Linked DNA regions of Homo sapiens. The protein of the gene in region 1 interacts with the protein of each later gene in a pairwise test. Each region holds a gene or a part of one and is shown in the gene's direction. Other genes may lie near its edges. The genes, in order: BIVM, BAZ2B and PPIL6.

What was found.
Region 2: the proteins of BIVM (region 1) and BAZ2B interact in binary tests that used the Homo sapiens proteins (3 or more experiments, as listed by UniProt).
Region 3: the proteins of BIVM (region 1) and PPIL6 interact in binary tests that used the Homo sapiens proteins (3 or more experiments, as listed by UniProt).

The regions. Positions count from the first base shown.
Region 1 is NC_000013.11:102,794,437-102,802,119, forward strand, and holds the start of BIVM (basic immunoglobulin-like variable motif-containing protein), read left to right. Parts: upstream 1-4,682; 5' UTR 4,683-5,085; intron 5,086-7,683. Other genes in the region: POGLUT2 (protein O-glucosyltransferase 2 isoform 1 precursor), read right to left, coding at 2,368-2,573, 4,053-4,234.
Region 2 is NC_000002.12:159,382,458-159,389,567, reverse strand, and holds part of BAZ2B (bromodomain adjacent to zinc finger domain protein 2B), read left to right. Parts: intron 1-82; coding exon 83-223; intron 224-2,960; coding exon 2,961-3,215; intron 3,216-4,198; coding exon 4,199-4,413; intron 4,414-5,887; coding exon 5,888-5,962; intron 5,963-6,765; coding exon 6,766-7,009; intron 7,010-7,110. UniProt on the Homo sapiens protein: Regulatory subunit of the ATP-dependent BRF-1 and BRF-5 ISWI chromatin remodeling complexes, which form ordered nucleosome arrays on chromatin and facilitate access to DNA during DNA-templated processes such as DNA replication, transcription, and repair.
Region 3 is NC_000006.12:109,395,563-109,402,672, reverse strand, and holds part of PPIL6 (probable inactive peptidyl-prolyl cis-trans isomerase-like 6), read left to right. Parts: intron 1-2,502; coding exon 2,503-2,638; intron 2,639-7,110. UniProt on the Homo sapiens protein: Probable inactive PPIase with no peptidyl-prolyl cis-trans isomerase activity.

The DNA.
Region 1 (7,683 bases):
GGATAACTTGAGGTCAGGAGTTTGAGACCAGCCTGGCCAACATGTTGAAACCCCATCTCTACTAAAAATACAAAAAAGTTTAGCTGGGTATGGTGGTGTGTGCCTGAAATCTCAGCTACTCAGGAGGCTGAGGCATGACAATAGCTTGAATCTGGGAGGTGAAGGTTGCAGTGAGCGGAGATTGTGCCACTGTGCTCCAGCTTGGGGGACAGAGTGAGACTCTTGTTTCAAAAAATAAAAGAAAGACAACAGATACTTGGTTTATGTCTATGGTAATATTACAGCTCATTATTCCTTATGTTTTGCAGACTGAAGAATAACCAAATACTGGTAAAAGGGTATCAGAGGAGCATACCTATTTTAATGAAAGACAAAAGTGATATGATTTACTATTTTGATGGTCTGTTATACAAACAGGTTCTTAAAGTGTCTAAGGTACTTTTCTCAATAAGTAAATCATCAATAACAGCAAAAATAAACAAGGAACTGCTATTCTTTTTTTTTTTTTTTTTAAGAATTATTAAGGAGGAAAAGTAGGCTGGGTTCTTGGCTCATGCCTGTAATCCCAGCACTTTGGGAGGCTGAGGCGGGCGGATCACGAGGTCAGGAGATCGAGACCATCCTGGTCAACATGGTGAAACCCCGTCTCTACTAAAAATACAAAAATTAGCCAGGTGTTGTGGCGCGTCCCTGTAGTCTCAGCTATTTGGGTGGCTGAGGCAGCAGAATCGCTTGAACCCGGGAGGCAGAGCTTGCAGTGAGCCGAGATTGCACCACTGCACTCTAGGCTAGTGACAGAGCGAGACATCGTCTCAAAAAAAAAAAAAAAAAAAAAAGCAAAAGTAGCTGGGTACAGTGGCTCACGCCTGTAATCCTAGCACTTTGGGAGACTGAGGTGGGCAGATCACTTGAGCTCCAGGGTTCGGGACCAGTCTGAGCAACATGGCAAAACCCTGTTTCTACAAAAAATACAAAAATTAGTGGGGCATGGTGGTGAGTGCCTGTAGTCCCAGCTACTCATGCAGCTGAGGTGGGAGGATTGCTTGAACCCAGGAGGTCGAGGCTGCAGTAAGCAGTGATTGCACCACTGCACTCCAGCCTGGGCAACAGAGCGAGACCCTGTCTCAACAACAACGGCAACAAAAAGAAGCAAAAGTAATTCTCAAAACAGTCCACTTCACTAATTTTATAACAAATTAATTACAGTCTGCACTGAGGTTTTTACTGTTATTCCTTTTTATAATTCTCAGATCCCACCTAACCCAGGCAGTGGCTGACAATGGAATATCTTTTTAAGGTTTAGTGGGTGATACTGTACCAGGCTGTACTGGCAGAATGTAGGAAAGGAACCTAGACACTCTTGAAAAGTGTTTACCTTTTCTTACTTCTCTGCAGAGTTCACAAAAATAAAAAAAAAAAAGTTTACTTTTCTTGGGGTTGTTAAGGGGGGGACAAGATTTCTGCCTTTGTATATACACTGCTTCCCTACTGTCTTGTGGTACTGTCGCCTGTAAGAGGGAAGGAGATGGCTCTAGGTAATAAAACTGTACTCTCATCCTATATAAGAAACATCAGAATGGCCGAGCATGGTGGCTCACACCTGTAATCCCAGCACTTTGGGAGACTGAGGCAGGCAGATCATGAGGTCAAGAGATCGAAACCATCCTGGTCAACATGGTGAAATCCTGTCTCTACTAAAAATACAAAAATTAGCCTGGCATGGTGGTGCGTGCCTGTAATCCCAGCTACATGGGAGGCTAAGGCAGGATAATCGCTTGAACCCGGAAGGCGGAGCTTGCAGTGAGCCAAGACTGCGCCATTGCACTCCAGCCTTGTGACAGAGCGAGACTCTGCCTCAAAAAAAAAAAAAAAAAAATAAATAAATAAATAAATAAATAAATGTCAGAGAATTTCTCTGGGAAAATGGCATTGGAACAAAGACAAAAAAACAACCACCAGTGCGCTCCTTGTCTTTCGAGCTATCTCCCTTCCTGAAGTGATCTACCTAATTTCAATAACACTTATCAGTTACTTAAGTCATATATTTCCAATTAAGAAAGTATCATATATGAGCATGAACACAGCTTGATTATTCTTGCTAATGTATGTCTTCGCGGAGTAAATTCTCTACTAATATGTTCCTTGCTCTTTAGCAAATCAGAATTTCCGTTCAAATCTTGAATGTCTTTTTACCAGGACTCATAACTTAGCTTTCAAGTAGAAAGCCTTTATTTTTCTTCTTTCAGTAAAAAAAAAAAAAAAAATATATATATATATATATATATCATGCCAAGTTGTTTTTGTTGATGGAATAACATATATTATTTTATTCAAATACTGCTGTTATAAAATTATATTCCAAATTACCTTTTAAAATATATGGGGATTTGGCCACATGTTGCCCTTGGAATTTAATTTCCACCTTCAGATTTTTGTAGCTTGCATACATTCTGTATCTTACTATGAAGGACCCATCTTTTCGGTCTAAAACCTGGACTCCAACTCTAGTGAATTGCTCCTCTGGTGCTGAGACTTTCACCTGGAAGACCTTTTCGCCTGGAGAAGATGTGAATCTGTGATGAAAAGGCAATGGGGGAGATAAACAGATTTTAACGAACAAACACACAAAGGTTATGCTCTTCAGTCTGGAAACTTGATTATTCTCCTCCACATTCTTCCTCTAACATATGATTGCTTCTTCTTCTCTTATGCTTTTAGTACCAGAATGAATATGATGGATCAGAGATTTAAAAAAATGAGGATGACAATGGCCAAGATAACATGAAACAGTTTCATTAAACAGTCACAATGGAGTATGTTAAGACTATTAATCTATATAAGCACAGAACATACTCATGCATTCCATATGGAAAAATATTCTTACTAACTTATTTCATGCTATCACATCTGGATATTTGTGATCAAATGATGCTCCCAAAGATAATGATCTTATTTTGAAAAATCTCTGCCAATGAATCTTTACAATATCAGTATTATAAATCACGCTCAGGCCTGGCACTGTGGCCCATGCCTACTATCTCAACATCTTGGGAGGCCAAGGAGGGAAGACTGCTTGAGGCCAGGAGTTCGAGATCAGCCTGGGCAACAAGGTGAGATCCTGTCTCTACAAATAATAATAATAATAATAAAAAACAAATAGCCAGGCGAGGTGGCACACGCCTGTAGTCCCAACTACTAGGGAGGCTGAGGTGGGAGGATAGCTTCAGCCTGGGAGGTTGAGGGTACAGTGAGCTGTGATTGCACCACTGCACTCCAGACTAGGCTAGGAAGTGAAACCCTGTCTTAAAAAAAAAAAACTCACGCTCAGCCATGGGCAAAAGCAAAGTAGTAGGTAGTGTATCATCTTTTGCCAAATAACAAAATTTACAACCTGCCTTTTACTTGACAACCTTTTATTCCAGTATTTTTTTCTGTATGAAATACACACAGTCAGCATCCACCAATAATAGAGACAATCATTTCAGAAGTATAGGAATTATAAAAATAAGTTTTAAGTATGATGTTAAAGTATTAAATTCATTGGAACAAAATATTTGTTACAATCATATAGGAGATTAATACTTCGATACTTTCCTTCCGAACTCTGAAGTTTCAAATAGTACTTCATTTTTCTTTTTCAGTTTCAAAACATGCTTACCTGCAGATGTCTCCTTGAAAATTGAGGGCCGCACCAGAGAAAGATGAAGCCCATCAAGTCTCTAACAACTAGGTTTAAATCCCTTATAATAGCTTATGCGAAAAGTAGTTAGAAACAGTATTTCCAGCAAAGTGGAGGGACTTTGTCTTGCCCTGATAATGTGGGAATCTGAATCAAAATTGCTAGGAGATTATTTTATATGTTATATACAATACATTATATTGCATATATTATAATTCGGAACAATTTCTACAGCTACAGAGAAAAATGGGTAACCAAATATCCTGGAATATAAACTGCTGTGGAGAAACGAGTTCTTGGAAAGAAAAATCTTAAAGGGAGAAACAGATTTAACCGCCATCCAAAATAGGTAAGGAGCCGTTTCTCGACTTACTTATTCCCTGATGTATCCACTGCCTGAATATAGAAATAGCGGGCGGGAAGGACGACGTCTGCTTTTAGCCCGGGTCCCCATATTTCGCTCTTCTCCGGGCTCAGCTGCCTTTCTCCGCCGGTCTCGGCGAGTGCTGGAACTGTCGCCAGAAAGAAGCAATAAAGTAGCAAAGTGCCAAACATTTACAAGACGGACTCTCGAAATGATCCACCGATAAATGAAGAAGTGTAAGAGGTGGACAGAAGCAGCCGAGCCTTCGGCAGGGACCCGCCGGCCGATCGCAGCAGCCAACGCGACTGCAAAGGTTGCCGCCCGGCGTGCAGGGCAGGCGCGCGGGTCTCCGCGACCCCAGGACAATCAAAGCCCGTGCCCCGGCGCGCCCAGGTGAGGGTCCCCTGGCGTTCTGCTGTCCCGGCCGAGAACCGCGCTGCTCCTCTCTCTCAGGACAATGATGAACTTGAGTTGCTCCTGCCACTGGAGCATCATTTGGGAGCGAATCCGTCTCAGGTTCCAGCCAAGGTGTAGGGCGAGGGGATTGGCCCGTGCGTCGGGCCAGGCTCAGTAACGCCTTCTCCAAGTGGATGGCGGGGTGGACACGCGTCCCGGCGCCCCGGGCTCCCTGGGATATGTAGTTCGCGACAGGACGAGCGGAAATACTGCCAGGATTTTACCACCTCTCGCCCATTTATTTACTTCTCGGTCACCGCTTTCGGGGGACAGATAAACACCACAGATGCCCATCAAAGGGGCGCACGGGTCTGGAGGCGCAGCTCAGGTTTTTGCGTTGGTCACCCTGCCCTCCGCACGTGGAGAGGGCAGGCATAAAGCACCTTGAAAGGAAGGTGCTGTCAATGCTATCCGACGACCTGTCGCCGGGCACCGCAGCATCCTCGCTCGCTCCGATGGGACGAGGGACGCCGGCCCCAGGGTAACAGGAGGCGCCTCGCCGGCCGCGCGCTGGATGCTGTGATCCAGGTCCGGAGCCGGGTTCCGCCGCGGCCGCAGCGACCCGACCCCACCCGACAGGCCAGAGGTACCCCGGGGCGGGGGGCAGGGGCCGAGGTGGCGGCCGGCTGTGCGCTCTGAGCGCCTGGCCCTCCGCTGGGCACCTGGGCGCCGCCAGCCCGGCCTGCTGCCGCTCTACGCGCAGCCACCTGGGCATTCAAAATTTTTACTTAATTCGATACCGGCCTGGGCTGCCAGGGGTCATCGCCTCTCCGAGCCCCGTGGCGTCCAGATGGAGGCCACTGCATGGGTGCGCGCTCTCCCGGGAAGGAGTAGGGGGAAGAGCTGTGTCGCGGGGGGAAGAGAAGCGCCAGGGAAAGAAGGGCCTAGCCCTCTGGTGAACAAAGCTCGATTAGGAGGTGTCCATGTGGATACCGGTGACCCCTGTGCGGCCGTCGGTCTCCACGCCACGCTGGGCAGGGTCCGGGAACCAGCGCGCAGCGGCCGTCGCCTTCCCCTGCACGCCAGCACCCGGGTCTGGGCCGCCGCCAGGAGTCACGGGCTCACCGCCCTGGTCAGCTTGGCAGTCGGACCCGGAGCCGCCTCCTCTGCCTGCCTCCCTCTTGCCAGCTGCCCCGAAAACCCAGAAGAGCCGGTGGCTCCGAGCCAAGGCGGGCCTGGTTCGGCGCCAGGAAAGGGGGTTTCTTTCCTATTTTCTTTTGTGCAATTGTCATTATTAATGATACCGACTCGTTTACTCAAACAGTCGAATCGGAGCCCCAGCTCTTAGCCCGGATGCAGCAATTGCCCGTGGGCCCCCTTTAACACCAACAGCGTCCCCGGGGCCCGGGGCAAGCATGTTCGAGGCGGTCACCCCCGGGCCTCGGCGCGCTCCCCCTGGCGGAGAGCCTCGTCTTCCGGCCGGTGAGGGAAGGTAGAGGAGGGAGTAGGGGCGAGGAGGCCTCGGCGGCCCTTGGGCTCTGCGGGCTGGGGACTCGGGGTGCCCGCGACACGCGCGGAGGCGCGGGCTGGGTTGGCCACGGGCAGGGAGCGCAGCCGCGCTCCTTCCTCTCTGCCCGCGTCGCCTCCGCGCGCACTGGTTCTGCGCGGCGGGGCTTGGCCTGCGCGACTGTCTACTCCGTCCCGGCGGCCTCGGAGCCCGGCCGAGCGGCGAGCTTGTCAGAGGACGGTGGTGGAAACGCTCCCGGCCTCCCCAGGGGCGCGGGCTGGAGGCTGGCGCCAGGCGCGGAGGACTCCCGGTATCTTTTGACAGGCTGGCGCCTCGGCTCTGGGGACCCGCAGGTCTGAAGGGGAGGAAGGGGCCTGGAGGGCGCGGGAGGACACCGGGTGGGAAGGGTGGCATTAGCTCGGCCGGGGGCTATGCGCCTCTGGTTTCGCCCTCCCGCGCATATTCGACCCTTACGAGGTCACCGGAATGCCCCTGCTCCTCAGTTGCCTTCTATACAGGATATCGATCAGGGTATTTTGTTATACGAAAAGGCTTTACTGAAGAGGTTTTTAGAGATGTTTGGTTCTCTCATAAACTTGATACTTGAGAATACAGACAAAATATAACCTGAAAAGACTACAACCTAGGCGATGAAGATTGGCTTTACAAATGGACGTTTATTTTACAGAACACTTCGTTCAGTGACTTTGAACAATCATGACTCTGGCGGTGCTTTTTAAACTTGCCATTTTATAAATTTTTGCTTTGCATACGAGCAAACCATATTTCTATTGCTTATGACATGATTTTATGAGTAAGCTATTAGTTGAGCCTGAGGTCCTGCAGTCATTCTTAGTAGTAAATTTTTTTTTTTTTTTTTTTGAGACGGAGTTTTGCTCTGATCGCCCAGGCTGGAGTGCAATGGTGCAACTGTAACCTCCACCTCTGGTGTTCAGCGATTCTCCAGCCTTGCCTCCTGAGTAGCTGGGCCTACACGCATGCGCCACCATGCACGGCTAATTTTGTATTTTTTTATTTTTTATTTTTTTTTAGTAGAAACGGGTCTCACCATGTTGGCCAGGCTGGCCTCAAACTCCTGACCTCAGATGATCCACCCGCCTCAGCCTCCCAAAGTGCTGGGATTACAGGTGTGAGCCACCACGCCGGCTTAGTAAATCTTAATATAGCAACACCTCACTTGCCTGGAAGAGGGAACCGCAATCAATCAAAATGAGGGCCTACAGTAATGCCTGGCATGATGCAAACACTTAAAAATTATCTGTTGAATGAGACGTCTACAAATCCTAGGCCCTGGGGATACAATAATCTGGAAAACCAGACTTGCAGGATGCAGACGTTGATCATATGAACAGATATGCACAGAAGTAAGTGTAAAATTGCCACCTGGTAAGACCTGTGTGAGGAAGGTACTAGAGTCTGTACCGGGTCACCTGGCCTAGTTTGAGAAGCCAAGAAGGTTTCCCCCAGAAAGTGACATTTGAGCTGACATTGGAAAGATGAATGGGAATGAGCTAAGTAAGGGAGACAGTATTGGGAGAACCAAAAAGTAATGTGGAGCTTGGGGGGTGGGGGAAAGGAATGAGATGGAGCTAACCAGATAGATCTAGGGACCATCAGGAGTTGGCCTTTTGTTCTAAGAGCAGAGGCTTTCAGGCAGAGGAGTTCTGTGATCATATATATGTAGCAAACTTTATTTTCTAATATCTCTGCACAGGT
Region 2 (7,110 bases), on another chromosome or scaffold:
TCAATGTTGCTACATAATTCTAAGTTTATTCCAACATATATAATGATTAAGAAGAATATGTGTACATGGTTTTCTTTTTAAGGAAAAAGAGCGGTTGAAACAAGAAAAACGTGATGAGAAAAGATTAAATAAAGAGCGTAAACTAGAGCAGCGAAGATTAGAATTAGAAATGGCAAAGGAACTAAAGAAGCCTAATGAAGACATGTGCTTAGCAGACCAAAAGGTAATTTATACGTCATGTACACCATTTCATTCATAAGTTTAATTTTTCCAGTTTTCTTACCTGATTTCTTTGCCAGAGCTGCTATTGTGAAAGCCTTTCATTTTTAACTATAGCAGTGAATTTCCAACTCTAGGTCAATTTGCCTTTCCTAGATAGCTAGAAGTAAACCTCTCTGGAGCTCTTGTGCTGGTAATGGCGGTTTTTTTGTTTGTTTGTTTGGTTGGTTGGTTGGTTGGTTGGTTGGTTGGTTGTTTTCAGACAGGGTCTTACTCTGTCATTTAGGCTGGAGAGAGGGCAGTGGCAGGATTATAGCTCACTGAAGCCTCAACTTCTCGTTCCCAGGCTCAAGTGGTCCTCTCACCTCAGTCTTCTGAGTTGCTGGGACCACAGGCGCTTGCCACCATGCCTGGCTAGTTTTTTGGGTTTTTGTTATTTTAATTTTTTGTAGCGGCAGACTCTTATGTTGTCCTGGCTGGTCTTGAACTCCTGGGCTCAAGTGATACAGCCACCTCAGCCTCCCAAAGTTCTGGGATTCCAGGCACAGAAAAATCTCAACTCCTCCCCACATCCCTATGGATATTTAAATAAATGAGGATTTATAATCTGTGACCTCCTTCAGTGCTTTAGGTGGCAAACCTTTATTGAACATGTTTACTACATGCTAGGACTGTGCTAAGCACTTATTTGAATTTTCTCATTTAATCCTCAATACAATCTTGTGGAGTTAGTATTTCTTCCCATTTATACATGAGAAAACTGAGACACAAAGAGGTTAAGGAACTTGCCCAAGATTACACAACTAATAAATGGCGATTTGGATTCAAACTCCAGTTTGTTAAACTCCAGAGCCTATACTGTTTATCATCCTGAAAGCCAAGAAACTGTGTCCAACCAAAGCACCTCATATGTGTTTTGTCTTCCATAGTGCTTCACAGACATGTAATGTTGCTGAAATACATAAAAGTATAAATTTAGAAACATTGCTGTAATCTTGGCAACCAGCATAATTTCATATACTTTTGAGTAAAAATCAATGATGTTTTGACTATAGTTAAGAAGATGGTACTTCTAGAAAAATATCAATAATGCATTTCATCTCTATATTATTATACTTAATTAGTAGGATATGTATTTACTTATATGCAATATTCAAATGATTTGCAAATAATGATTATCTCTTGATTTATGTAAGCTCTTTTTTTATTTTATTTTATTATTATTATACTTTAAGTTTTAGGGTACATGTGCACAATGTGCAGGTTAGTTACATATGTATACATGTGCCCTGCTGGTGTGCTGCACCCATTAACTCAATTATGTAAGCTCTTTTCTAAAGTGCTTAAAGAAAACTTTTAGTACTCTAGAATGGATTGAACTATATTAATATTCTATTTATTTACTTAGCATAAATGCTTCTAAATAAAAATGAGAGTATACTTACTAGTTGTAGTCATTTGGATATTTAAATTTTCCTAAGCAGAGAATGGGTATATAAATTAGTTAACACATTTAATAAGCTCATAGTGATCAAGCTTTTTAAATCCTAAGTGAGCTTCATTTTCTTGTATCTTTTATTTTCATTTAAATTCATATGTACTATATCAAATATGTAAGTCCATTTTAAGCCATATTTTTAATAGCTCAGCTTTGCTACATAAATTTTTAGAATTACATAGAAATGTATATGTTTCCTGTGGTTCAAGAAAAAGGGAGAATGAGAATTAACTGGCTTTCAAGAAGAATATAAAATATTTGTATGAGATGAGCTATTATCTATAGTTTTGTGTTTCCACACAGTATTAACAGAAAAAGTCTTCAATTGGTTACCTCAATAAATGCAGAGTGGAGAAATATTTTTGAACAAGGACCAATTCAGATAAATAGAAATATTTATGTCACTTTTTTTCCAATTAAAATTTAAAGTACTTTTTTAGGCTCTCATTAACAGGCAAAATGTTTTTAATTCAGATTACCTATTTATTGAAATTTTAAAATGTTGATGACAACTGGTACTGCAATTAAGTCATTAAAATGTTAATATGTGAGCATATTTGAGAAATAACAACAGAGATAGCTAATTTTAATACTGAAGCTAATACTTGCCTAAATACAGGGAAACCTAAAGACCTTTAGTTGCATTATAACTGGGTTTATGTACAGGGTCATGGATTCTAGTTATGTGGACCTAGTTATTTATCTGCATTCATTAGCCATAGATGGTACCACTTTCTCCAACCATAGAGCCCACAGATGCATGCTGTTTGTTTCTAAGCTACAAAAAAAGTGTGATTTTTAAATGTCATCATCATTAGAAGAAATTGGTGCACATGCCCCTATAAGTATGTCCATGGTAAAGTACTTTTGAAATGTTTATATTTTATTTAATTTTTGCTCCAGTTATATAATCCATGTTTTGTTAATATGGATATGTCAGTTGATTGAATATGCAAGTTGATTAAAATTAATGTCTCTTTTGCAAAGATCTAAGTTCATAATTGAGTTCAACCAAAATTTATTAATGGTTGCTTACTTGTATGAAGATACTTCAAGACACTATGCTTAGTTCCATGGGGGTTACAGAAATGCCCCCAGAGAATTTAGCATCCCAAAGGAAGCTACTGGTACAATACAAGAGGGGAAAAAAGGTAGCAGCTTATTTTACTTTAGAAGATACGAAATCATGGCTTTTAAAAAATTAAGCTGTTTTTATTTTATTTGTATTTCATTTTATTTTCAGCCTTTGCCAGAGTTGCCTCGTATTCCAGGACTTGTTCTCTCTGGAAGTACATTTTCAGACTGTCTCATGGTGGTGCAGTTCTTACGAAACTTTGGTAAAGTTTTGGGCTTTGATGTGAATATTGATGTTCCAAACCTGAGTGTTCTTCAAGAGGGATTGCTAAATATAGGGGACAGCATGGGTGAAGTACAAGACTTGCTTGTGAGGCTCCTCTCAGCTGCTGTATGTGATCCAGGTCTAATAACAGGATACAAGGTAAAAAAAAACAAAATATAAAATGTTTTAAATTTGTACTGTCAGTGCATTGGTAGATAGCTTTAGCATATTAGCAGAAGATTATATAGATTGATCTAATTTTTCCACATAATGTCTCACAAAGTTAACTGTAGATTTGTGTCAGGTTACACTTCATACAAAGAAAACCTGGTTATAAAGCTTAAGGAATGTAGACCATTCTCAAGTTATTCTTTTTTCCTCTAGCTGTAGGCAAAGACCAAGGTGATTTAAGGAAATCCTTAAGCGATATTCATCAACAACAGAATTCATAATTCATAAGGCAACTAGAACTTGTATGTGCCTTCTGATATTATACCTTGTTCTCTCTCAATCACTGTGAATAACTGAAGCTAATCAAGGCACCTACAGACCAGCACGTTAAGACCCTGTGCTGCTCAGTGGATCCTCAATAAGTTCATGTTTATCTTAATTCCAAATACAGTATACATTCCAGGGAGCTTTGCTCTAGATAATATTGTGGAGAGAGAACCTCCCAGATGCACCTGTTTTTCTTCTATCTCCCTCAGTGTTTCCCTATTTATTATCCCCAGCCAGTAAAACCTATAACACTTTAAGGGTAGAAAACAATACTGTTTTTTAACCTCCCCACTCTGTCATTCCTGATAAAATATCCAGATGAAACTTGGGGAAAGGTTGGTGTCGCTTTTATAGTCATGGAAGGCTTGATAGGTAATTTAAAACTTCTGCTACCCATGAATTTGCATACTCTTCTCCCTGCCTGACTTGGAACCAAGGATTTGAAGCGGGGAAAGAAAGAAACAAATACTTGAATATTTGTCTGTCTTCTATTGACTATTTTTGTGTCTCTTTCATTAAAAAAAAAGTGAATAAAGCTCTTGTCAGTAGTATCTAAATCAAATAATATGAGGATTTTTAATCTTATTGTTTTTATGGTATAAATGGTTGTGAGTAATACTGATAAAAATGCCAAACTTTTATAGGCTAAAACAGCTCTTGGAGAACATTTGCTGAATGTTGGTGTGAATCGAGACAATGTTTCCGAGATTTTACAGATATTTATGGAAGCCCACTGTGGACAAACTGAGCTTACTGAAAGTCTGAAGACCAAAGCTTTTCAGGCTCACACTCCAGCACAGAAAGCTTCAGTCCTGGCTTTCCTGATCAATGAACTGGCATGCAGCAAGAGTGTGGTCAGGTGAGCATATGCCCAGGCTTTTCCGTGATTTTTCCATTTTGAATTTTTCTAATCAAAAAGTAATACAAATTGATTATAGAAAATTGGAAAGTTACAGACTAGCACAAAGAAGAAAATTAAAATTGTACTTATCTCAGTATTTAGAGATGGCCACTAATAATATTTTCATGTATTTCTTTGTAGTGTATTGAAAAAAAATTTGGATTATACTGTGTGTCTGTAATACGTGGTCTTTGTCACCTGTTTTGTTTAATAATTCTGTTAATTCTTTATACATAACTTTTTTTATATTTTTAGTTGCTATGGTACCAGAATGTGGTACCACCACAAGAATACAGAATTTTTTTTTCCTTCACGTCTTTTAAGGACAGATGACTACCTGATTTTGCTTAGTAGCCATTCACAGAATTACGTAGCCACTTTTTATTTTGTTGTATGCTAATAGAACCATAGAGTATTTATTTATCAGTGTATTAATTTATACTTTTTTAAAGCATTTGATCCTATTTAAAAGTCAGAGTTCTCACTCTAGTACTTGTTACTAGTAAAATACTAATACCAACATGTACTCTAGTATTCAGGATTTCTGAACAAATTCATGTTCATCTTGTCCTTGTTATTCATTATTTTACAGATTTTTAACAACTTTTAGTCCTTTACCTTTCTAGAAAAAGGATCAATCCAAATATTCGGGGTCATGCATTTCTACCAGTGTGGAAATTTTAAGTTTTCTGTACCTATCTTAGCTATGATATTGTATTAATGTAATTTTTTGTTTGTTTCTGCTATTCACTGACAGTCATCCTAAAAAATATAATAATATTCACGTCTTACAATTTTATGAAAGAATAATTTCATTTAAGCATGAGCATGATAACAAATAGTAATGCTAAGTGGCACTTATTCAAAACACATACACCCAAATTCAATGTAAATGGTACACTATGGTTTTTGCCTTAGAAGGGAAAAAGCATCCCTATTTGACTTTACTGGTAAAGTAAAACAGAATGGTAAAGAATATCATAATATTCTTAGTTACTGTTTGGTTGTTTATATATATACACTTAGTGTATATGCATATGTATGTATGTGCACTTATGTAAATATCCATGTGTGTTCTGGTATCCTGCTTTGATTTTGGAAATTATCACATCTTAAAATACCTGCAACAAAACTTGGAATATTGTCTTTCTAAGGCAATTGATGCATAGTTTCTTTCTTGGTTTAAGATAGAAACCACAGTGAATTTTCTAATACTAATGTTGTATCCATTGAAGAAGTTATCACTTTTCAACATCTGTGTATACATATATAAACACATACATATATGAACGTGTATATGCATGAGGTCAGTTGTATCATTTTTACTTATTCAAAAATGCATTAATTTACGTATCAAGTTTATTGCATATCAAATTAATGCATTGCATAAATTGATTAATTTACACTTTTTAATAAATTCTTGCATTGGCAGTGAAATCGACAAGAACATTGATTATATGTCAAACTTGAGGAGAGATAAATGGGTGGTAGAAGGTAAACTCCGCAAGTAAGTCCTGTTTTATTAAAGTTAATGTACTGTTTTCTTTTTCTACAAATTCCCAGTAAAGCATATGAATTGCAAAGATAGAATTTAAACTTTTATTGTCTAAAGAAAAGATAATGCTCAATTTAGATGGGATATAAAATTAATAAAACTCAGGGGCAGAATTTGCAATGGACAAAAGATATAATGAGATTCATTGAGCTTATATTCTTCATACTTAGAAGAAAGTCATTTTCTCTTTTTCTTTTAAACAAGTCAAGCAATTACATTTTCTAAGATTGTGGTTGCTATTAAGTTGCTTTTATCACAAACAGAATGTTTGGAACTGTAACTTGTTTTCTTAATTGCTTTCTAATTAAAATTTGCTTTTACGGAATCTAGCTAAACTTATTCAGCATTAAAACTTAATTATCTTCCTGCCAGAAAATATCAGGCAGAAATTACTCCTATGTTAAGAGGTTAGTTTCTTTGTAGTAATTTGAATTGAAATTTATTCAGTCAGTTAGTATGGGATCAGAAATTATTACTCAGCCATTGTTAGAATTCTTCTTTTCAACTTTCATCATTTTTTTTAATGAGTCTAATTCCAAAGAGATATCTAGAATAACTCTTGAAAGTGAATGCATCCTGTAATTTATGGAAACATTTCTTAAGTTTCCTAATTCTAATTTTTTTTAACATTGGTATATCGCTTAACACAAAAGAAATGCCATAAGGTATTTTTGCATACAACTCATGTTTTGCTCTTTTAAAAGTATATTGAGAAGTCTTTTTTTCCTTGTCATCACTTTTCATAATATTTAAAGGCTCAGAATCATTCATGCTAAGAAAACAGGCAAAAGAGACACTTCAGGTGGCATTGATCTGGGAGAAGAGCAGCATCCCTTGGGCACACCCACTCCAGGACGCAAGCGAAGAAGGAAGGGAGGAGACAGTGATTATGACGATGATGATGACGATGACAGTGATGACCAAGGGGATGAAGATGATGAGGATGAAGAAGATAAAGAAGACAAAAAAGGAAAAAAGACTGATATCTGTGAAGATGAGGTAATGAAATTTAGGTTGATTTTAAGACAACTAGAACTGCATAACATATTTTTAAAAACAGAATTTGGAGTCAGATGGATTCGGATTTGAATTCAGTTTTG
Region 3 (7,110 bases), on another chromosome or scaffold:
ACCTGCACCTTTTAAAAATATAATTTATTCTGTCCCTTTATAGCAATGGTTCTCAAATTGTCTCTAAGGATTTCCATGCTGTCCTAAATAAATGTGTTCAGGAGATGAGAGGGCTCTAGGCACTTTTTTTTTTTCTTGAGACCGAGTCTTTCTCTGTCATCCAGGCTGGAGTGCATTGGCGCAATCTCAGTTCACTGCAACCTCCGCCTCCTGGGTTCAAGCGATTCTTGTGCCTAAGCCTCCTAAGTGGCTGGGATTACAGGCATGCACCACCACACCCAGCTAATTTTTGTGTTTTTAGTGGAGACGGGGTTTTGCCATGTTGGCCAGACTGGTCTCGAACTCCTGGCCTCAAGCGACCCACCCACCTTGGCCTCCCAAAGTGCTGGGATTACAGGCATGAGGCACTGTGCCTGGCTGCTCTAGGCACTTTTTGCACTGTTTTATACATGGGTTTTCACATAGGTAGCAGTTTCTTTGATAGGTATTATGATTAACTGCTTTAAAATTATCCCACAATCACAGAATTTTTTATAAAAATGTTACAACTCATCAATTTTCTTTCCCAATTTTTAAAGAATTTAAGAAAAATAAATCAGAATATGTAAAAGCAATGACAAATACCATTCTGTTAAAACTCTCTGAATCTGGGCCGGGCGCGGTGGCTCACGCCTGTAATCCCAGCACTTTGGGAGGCCGAGGCGGGTAGATCACGAGGTCACGAGATAGAGACCATCCTAGCAAACACGGTGAAACCCTGTTTCCACTAAAAATACAAAAAATTAGCCGGGCGTGGTGGTGGGCGCTTGTAGTTCCAGCTACTAAGGGAGGCTGAGGCAGGAGAATGGCATGAACCCGAGGCGCAGCTTGCAGTGAACCAAGACCGCGCCACTGCACTCCAGCCTGGGCAACAGAGCGAGACTCCATCTCACAAAAAAAAAAAAGAAAAACTCTCTGAGTCTTTGCTGTGGGCAGATTTCCATTTCATGCAATTTTCTGTGAAATTATGAGTTTTTTTCTTTATTTCACTGAAATGAATAAGGAGCATCAGCGTAATTATATAGACTCATTTGTACAAACATGCCTCATCAGCATTTCATAAGGTTTCAGGGGTCTTTATTCAGTTTTCAACTTACCAGGCTGAAAGTAACTACCCAGATATGGCTTAATCACTTAGTTTGCTTAGTTTTGAAACTTAATAACAGCAGTTGCAGTTTAATAAAATCTTATAGACAGTTAATATTCATATTTCTCAGTTATTCTCAGAAATTTATGAAGTTATTGAATGAAAAAATTCACTGAATTTCTCATCCATTATTTCCTTCTGTGTATTTGAACTTGGAGGCAAAGCTGGGAATGGTACGTCTTCAAATTGGTAGCCTAATAATCACCATACAACTCTTTTTACTTCTAAATCTTACACTAAAAAAGCTATTGCTTTCCACAAAATCTTGGTCAATCCAAATAAGGTTTCAGATTAAAATTTATTTGAAGATTGGCCAGGCACGGTGGCTTACGCCTGTAATCCCAGCAGTTTGGGAGGCCGAGGCAGGCGGATCATGAGGTCAGGAGATTGAGACCATCCTGGCCAACACAGTGAAACCCTGTCTCTACTAAAAATACAAAAAAAAAAAAAAAAAAAAAAATTAGCCGGGCATGGTGGCGGGCGCCTGTAGTCCCAGCTACTCGGGAGGCTGAGGCAGGAGAATGGCGTGAACCCGGGAGGCGGAGCTTGCAGTGAGCTGAGATCGCACCACTGCACTCCAGCCTGGGCGACAGAGCGAGACTCCCTCTCAAAAAACAAAAAAAAAATTTTATTTGAAGATCACTAAAAATAAACAATTAATTTCCTTTCATCATCAACATTTTTAAACTACATGGAATGGGAAAGTACATGGAATGGAAATCTGCCCAAACATTTAGGGCCACATTTATGCCAATTAATGTGCTGAGAAGCCTGGAGCTAAAGCCATGAGGAGACAAGGTTCCTGCCTTCACCTACTAGAGAAGAAATGCCATGTAAACCAATAATTACATCGAGTGTTATAAGGACTGTCCAAGAACGATGTGTAAGATGCTTGGGGGGTTCGGGGGAAAGGTCAGGTCCACAAAAGACTTCTCAGAGGAGGTGTTTTTAATGAGTATGGTGGTAGTTTGAAAGAAATACCAAAACAGCACGAGAAAGTTTGCTGACCTTTATTCTTGATTAGAATACTGTATATATTTCCTTGTACATTATTAATTTTCTTAGCACACTTGTTTATGGTAAAGACAAACTAAAGCTGAATGTTCCAATAGTTCTAATAAGGTTTTACAGGTTTTTTTAAACAGCCCATTTGCATGTTTGAAAATAATTTGAAATGAATAGAATATTTACAATTTGGAATCCATTGATAAATATGATTGAGAGTGTTACCAAGGGTTCTATTTGTTCCTTATATGTTACAATAAATTGAGATAATAGAAATGTGCTAATGACCTACTGATTATTGTCTTTCCTAGATGAAAACTTTTCAGTTCCTCATAATAAAAGAGGAGTACTTGGAATGGCCAACAAAGGCCGTCACAGCAACGGGTCACAATTCTATATCACACTGCAAGCAACTCCTTATCTAGATAGAAAATTTGTGGCTTTTGGGTATGTATATTGTAGATCTATTTATATAATATTCACACCTGTAAAAATGTCATTTAAAAATATTTGGATAAGTATTGTATATAGTGTATAGGTAGCTAAAAATAGGGCTTAAATGCAAAAATAATACAAATAGAGACAAAAGTATTTAAGAAATATTTTGCAAGAAGTTTGCTATCTATAAAAACACAGAAACTGGCCAGACACAGTGGCTCAGGCATATAATCCCAGCACTTTTGGAGGCTGAGGTGGGAGATTGCTTGAGCCCAGGAGTTCAAGACCAGCCTGGGCAACATAGCGAGACCCCATCTCTACAAAAAGATTAAAAATTATCTGGCTTGGCATGGTGGCTCATGCCTGTAATCTCAGCACTTTGGCAGGCCAAGGCAGGTGAATTACTTAAGGCCAGGAGTTCCAGAGCAGCCTGCCCAACATGGTAAAACCCCGTCTCTACTAAAAATACAAAAATTAGTCAGGCATGATGGCATGTGCCTGTAATTCCAGCCACTCCGGAGGCTGAGGCAGGAGAATCACATGAACCTGGGAGGTGGTTGCAGTGAGCCAAGATCATGCCACTGCACTCCAGCCGGGGTGACACAGCAAGACTCTGTCTCAAAAATAAATAAATAGGCCGGGTGCAGTGGCTCACACCTGTAATCCCAGCACTTTGGGAGGCTGAGGCAGGCAGATCACTCGAGGGCAGAAGTTCCAGACCAGCCTGGCCAACATGGCGAAACCCCATCTCCACTAAAAATACAAAAAATTAGCCAGGCGTGGTGGCATGCACCTGTAGTCCCGGCTACTCGGGAGGCTGAGGCAGGATAATTGCTTGAACCCAGGAGGCAGAGGTTGCAGTGAGCCGAGATCGTGCCACTGCACTCCATCCTGGGCGACAGAGCAAGACTCTGTCTTAAATAAATAAATAAATAAATAAATAAATAAAAATTAGCTGGGTGTGGTGGTGTGTGCCTGTAGTCCCAGCTACTGAAGAAGTTTCGGTGGGAGGATTGCTTGAGCCTGGGAGCCATGATTGTGCCACTGCACTCCAGCCTGGGCAACAGAATGAGACCCTACCTCAAAAAATATATAAGACAAAATAAAAAAATAAAAACAGAAACCATTTAGGCATAGTCACAATAATGTTCTTTCTGTGTCTCTATCTATCCATCTATCAAATCTTCAGCCTTAAGGATATTATCAATTCTTTATTACTATGAATCATACCACAGTGCTTAATAATATACTAATATGTAGAAGTGAAGAGGTGAAGTCATTTCAATAATTGTCCATGGACATCATGAAGAGGTAGATGAAAACTATTCAAGTTACATATAACTTTTTTTACTGAACGATTTTAAATATGAAAACATCACAGGTAATAGTTATTATTAGAATATTATTAGCAAGATGCTTAAAGCCATGTGGACCTAAAATGGATGATAGAAATACTTTTCATCACTCCAGTGTTTCATCTCTCTCTTTAATTACTGAGTGAATATGAGGCAGGGCTTACTTCTTCTTCCCTGAGATAATGTAAAGTGTTTGTATTTTTCTGAATAACTGTTAGATTTATTCCACCCACTCCATAGGGATAATTATTGACTCTCCAGCACCTGGAATGTCATGCCAGTGTTCATTTTAACCACAGTAATTCCTTTAGTGTAATGCTTTCTGTGATACTTCCAGGTTGAAAAAATAGAAAGTGTATTTTCATCCATAGGATATCTTTAAAGAGATAACATTACATTAATAGATGCATAACGTAAAACAATGACTTGTCTTAAGTTTTCCCTGGTCCCCAATAAATTGTATTCTGATTTCGAAAATGCATTATTAAATTAGTTTTAAGGCTGGACGCGGTGGCTCACGCCTGTAATCCCAGCACTTTGGGAGGCCAAGGCGGGTAGATCATGAGGTCAGGAGTTCAAGACCATCCTGGCCAACATGGTGAAACCCCATCTCTCCTAAAAATACAAAAATTAGCTGGGCATGGTGGCACACACCTGTAGTCCCAGCTACTCAGGAGGCTGAGGCAGGAGAATTGCTTGAACCCAGCAGGGGGAGGTTGCAGTGAGCCGAGATCGCACCACTGCACTCCAGTCTGACGACAGGGTGAGACACCATTTAAAAAAAAAAAAAAAAGTTTTAAATCCAAATAACATTTCTTGAATCATTTAAATCCAAATAACATTTCTTGGACCATTTAAATCTCTGTCATGTTGCTGACAGTCTCTGTCCTCTACCAACTTCCTGGTGATCTTTTATATCTCAGCTAAAGGTACCTTTCTCAAACACAAACATGACTACTTTAAAACATTTAGTGCCTCCATTACCACCTCCACATCTGCACAGCCTGAAGTCTAGAGTGGCATTCCAGGTCCTCTGGCCCCACATCCTTTGTTCAGCCTTCACTTCTGCTGTTTTCCCAACTCATTCAAGCAGAATTTCTTTAGGCACCTGCAGTATGCCATTCATGGTACTCAGTGCTGGGGAAAAAGAGCGACAAGGTACAATCCCTGCTCTTCAGCGAGCTTAGAGTATGTTATGAAAACAAGGTCAAATAGCCAATAGCTATGTGACAGTGAGACATGGGCCATGCAAACTGTGTACAGGGTGCATTGGGAGATGGGTAAGAAAACACCCTCCAACTCCCTTCACCAAAGCGAACACAGAGCGTTACAGGGCGGCAATGGAGTGGAGAGCACTCGGTCTCCTTTTGATGGTTCCTGTTCTCTATGATCCACCTTCCTCTTGGAGAAATCTCTAATTTTTGTTATCACCACTCTGTCCTCAGGGAGGCACTGCCCTCCTTCTATTCTGCTATTCTGCCTCAAGTATGATCTCAGTGTATTCCTTAAATCTCCAAATTAAAAACAAAGTCTCCAAATCACAGTTGGGGCTGGGCTGGAATATTTAAATAAGACCTTACAGAGTGCTAAGGGAGAAGCAGAAATGTAAAACATAATAGGCAACTAGATAATCTAGTTAAACTAATGAAATAGAACTCCTTCAGGGATACCTTCCTTCCCAGTTGTAGGGCTGCCTCTTCCCTATCATCTCTCAGTATCCCCAGGTGTGTCTGAGCTTTTGGAAGCCCAGACATGGTTAGCAAGGTCCAGAGAGATAAAGAATATTCCTCTCTGATCCAAGACAGGCACTCCTTCCAAGCCCAGTTTCCAGGTACATGAACCTGCCGCTCTCTCAGATGGATGACACTGGGAATGTCCTTCAGGAAAGACTGTAGCAATCCACAGAGCATGGCTGGCCCAGTGGGCTCATAGGGAAAGAATATCACAAAACAAGCCTGTAAGCTCTCCATTCACGTGCACCCATTGTAGAAGGGGTTTGGGGGAGGGGGAATTATTTCATTTTAAGAGACTTGTAAGGTGGGAGGGGGTCATGGAAAGTTTCATGAGAAGGTGAGCTGAGGAGTGAAATGTCACGTAGAAGTTAGCCAGATAGAGAAGCTAGAAATCACAATGAGTCAAATCAGTTTTAGGAAGAGTGAAGAGGTTTCGCAGAGAGGCCCTGAGGAGTAAGAGAGCATCTTATCTACAAGTCATCTGTTCTGGGCAGAGCTTGGTACTTAGGGGAGAATGGAAAGGGTGGAGGCCGGATAAGAGGGTCAGCAAGGGTCCAACTCCCAATGGACTGCGGGTGCCATGCTGCTGAGCAGGAACCTCACGCAAAGGTGATGGGGGCCATGGGAGAATTTTACATTGTGAGCGACATAACCAGCTTCTCATTTTGAAGAAAAAATCTCTTTAGCAGAAGTGAGGAATGAATTGGCAAAGAATGAAAAGGAAGTAGCAAGACCACTTAAGAAGCTATGGTTATAACAGGCCATAAATGAAGTCCTGCTCTAAAGCATCAGCAGTACAGATGAGCAGGTGATAAGTGGACAAACTCAAGACATTGAGAAGTTAGAGTAGAGAAGCACTTTGGGAGTCCGAGGTGGGCCGATCACGAGGTCAAGCGATCGAGACCATCCTGGCTAACACGGTGAAACCTCATCTCTACTAAAAAAAATACAAAAAATTAGCCGGGCGTGGTGGCAGGCGCCTGTAGTCCCAGCTACTTGGGAGACTGAGGCAGAATGGTGTCAACCCGGGAGGCGGAGCTTGCAGTGAGCGGAGATCGCACCACTGCACTACAGACTTGGTGACAGGGTGAGACTCCGTCTCAGGAAAAAAAAAAAAAAAAAAAGAGATCGAGACCATCCTGGCCAACATGGTAAAACCCCGTCTCTACTAAAAATACAAAAAGTTAGCCACGCATGGTGGCAGATGCCTGTAATCCCGGCTGCTCGGGAGGCTGAGGCAGGAGAATCGCTTGAACCTGGGAGGCAGAGGTTGCAGTGAGCCGAGATTGCGCCACTGTACTCCAGCCTGGCGACAGAGTAAGACTGTCTCAAAAAAAAAAAAAAAAAAGAAGTTAGAGTCGGGGGTGAGGGCCTGAGAGGAGTCCAGGCCAGC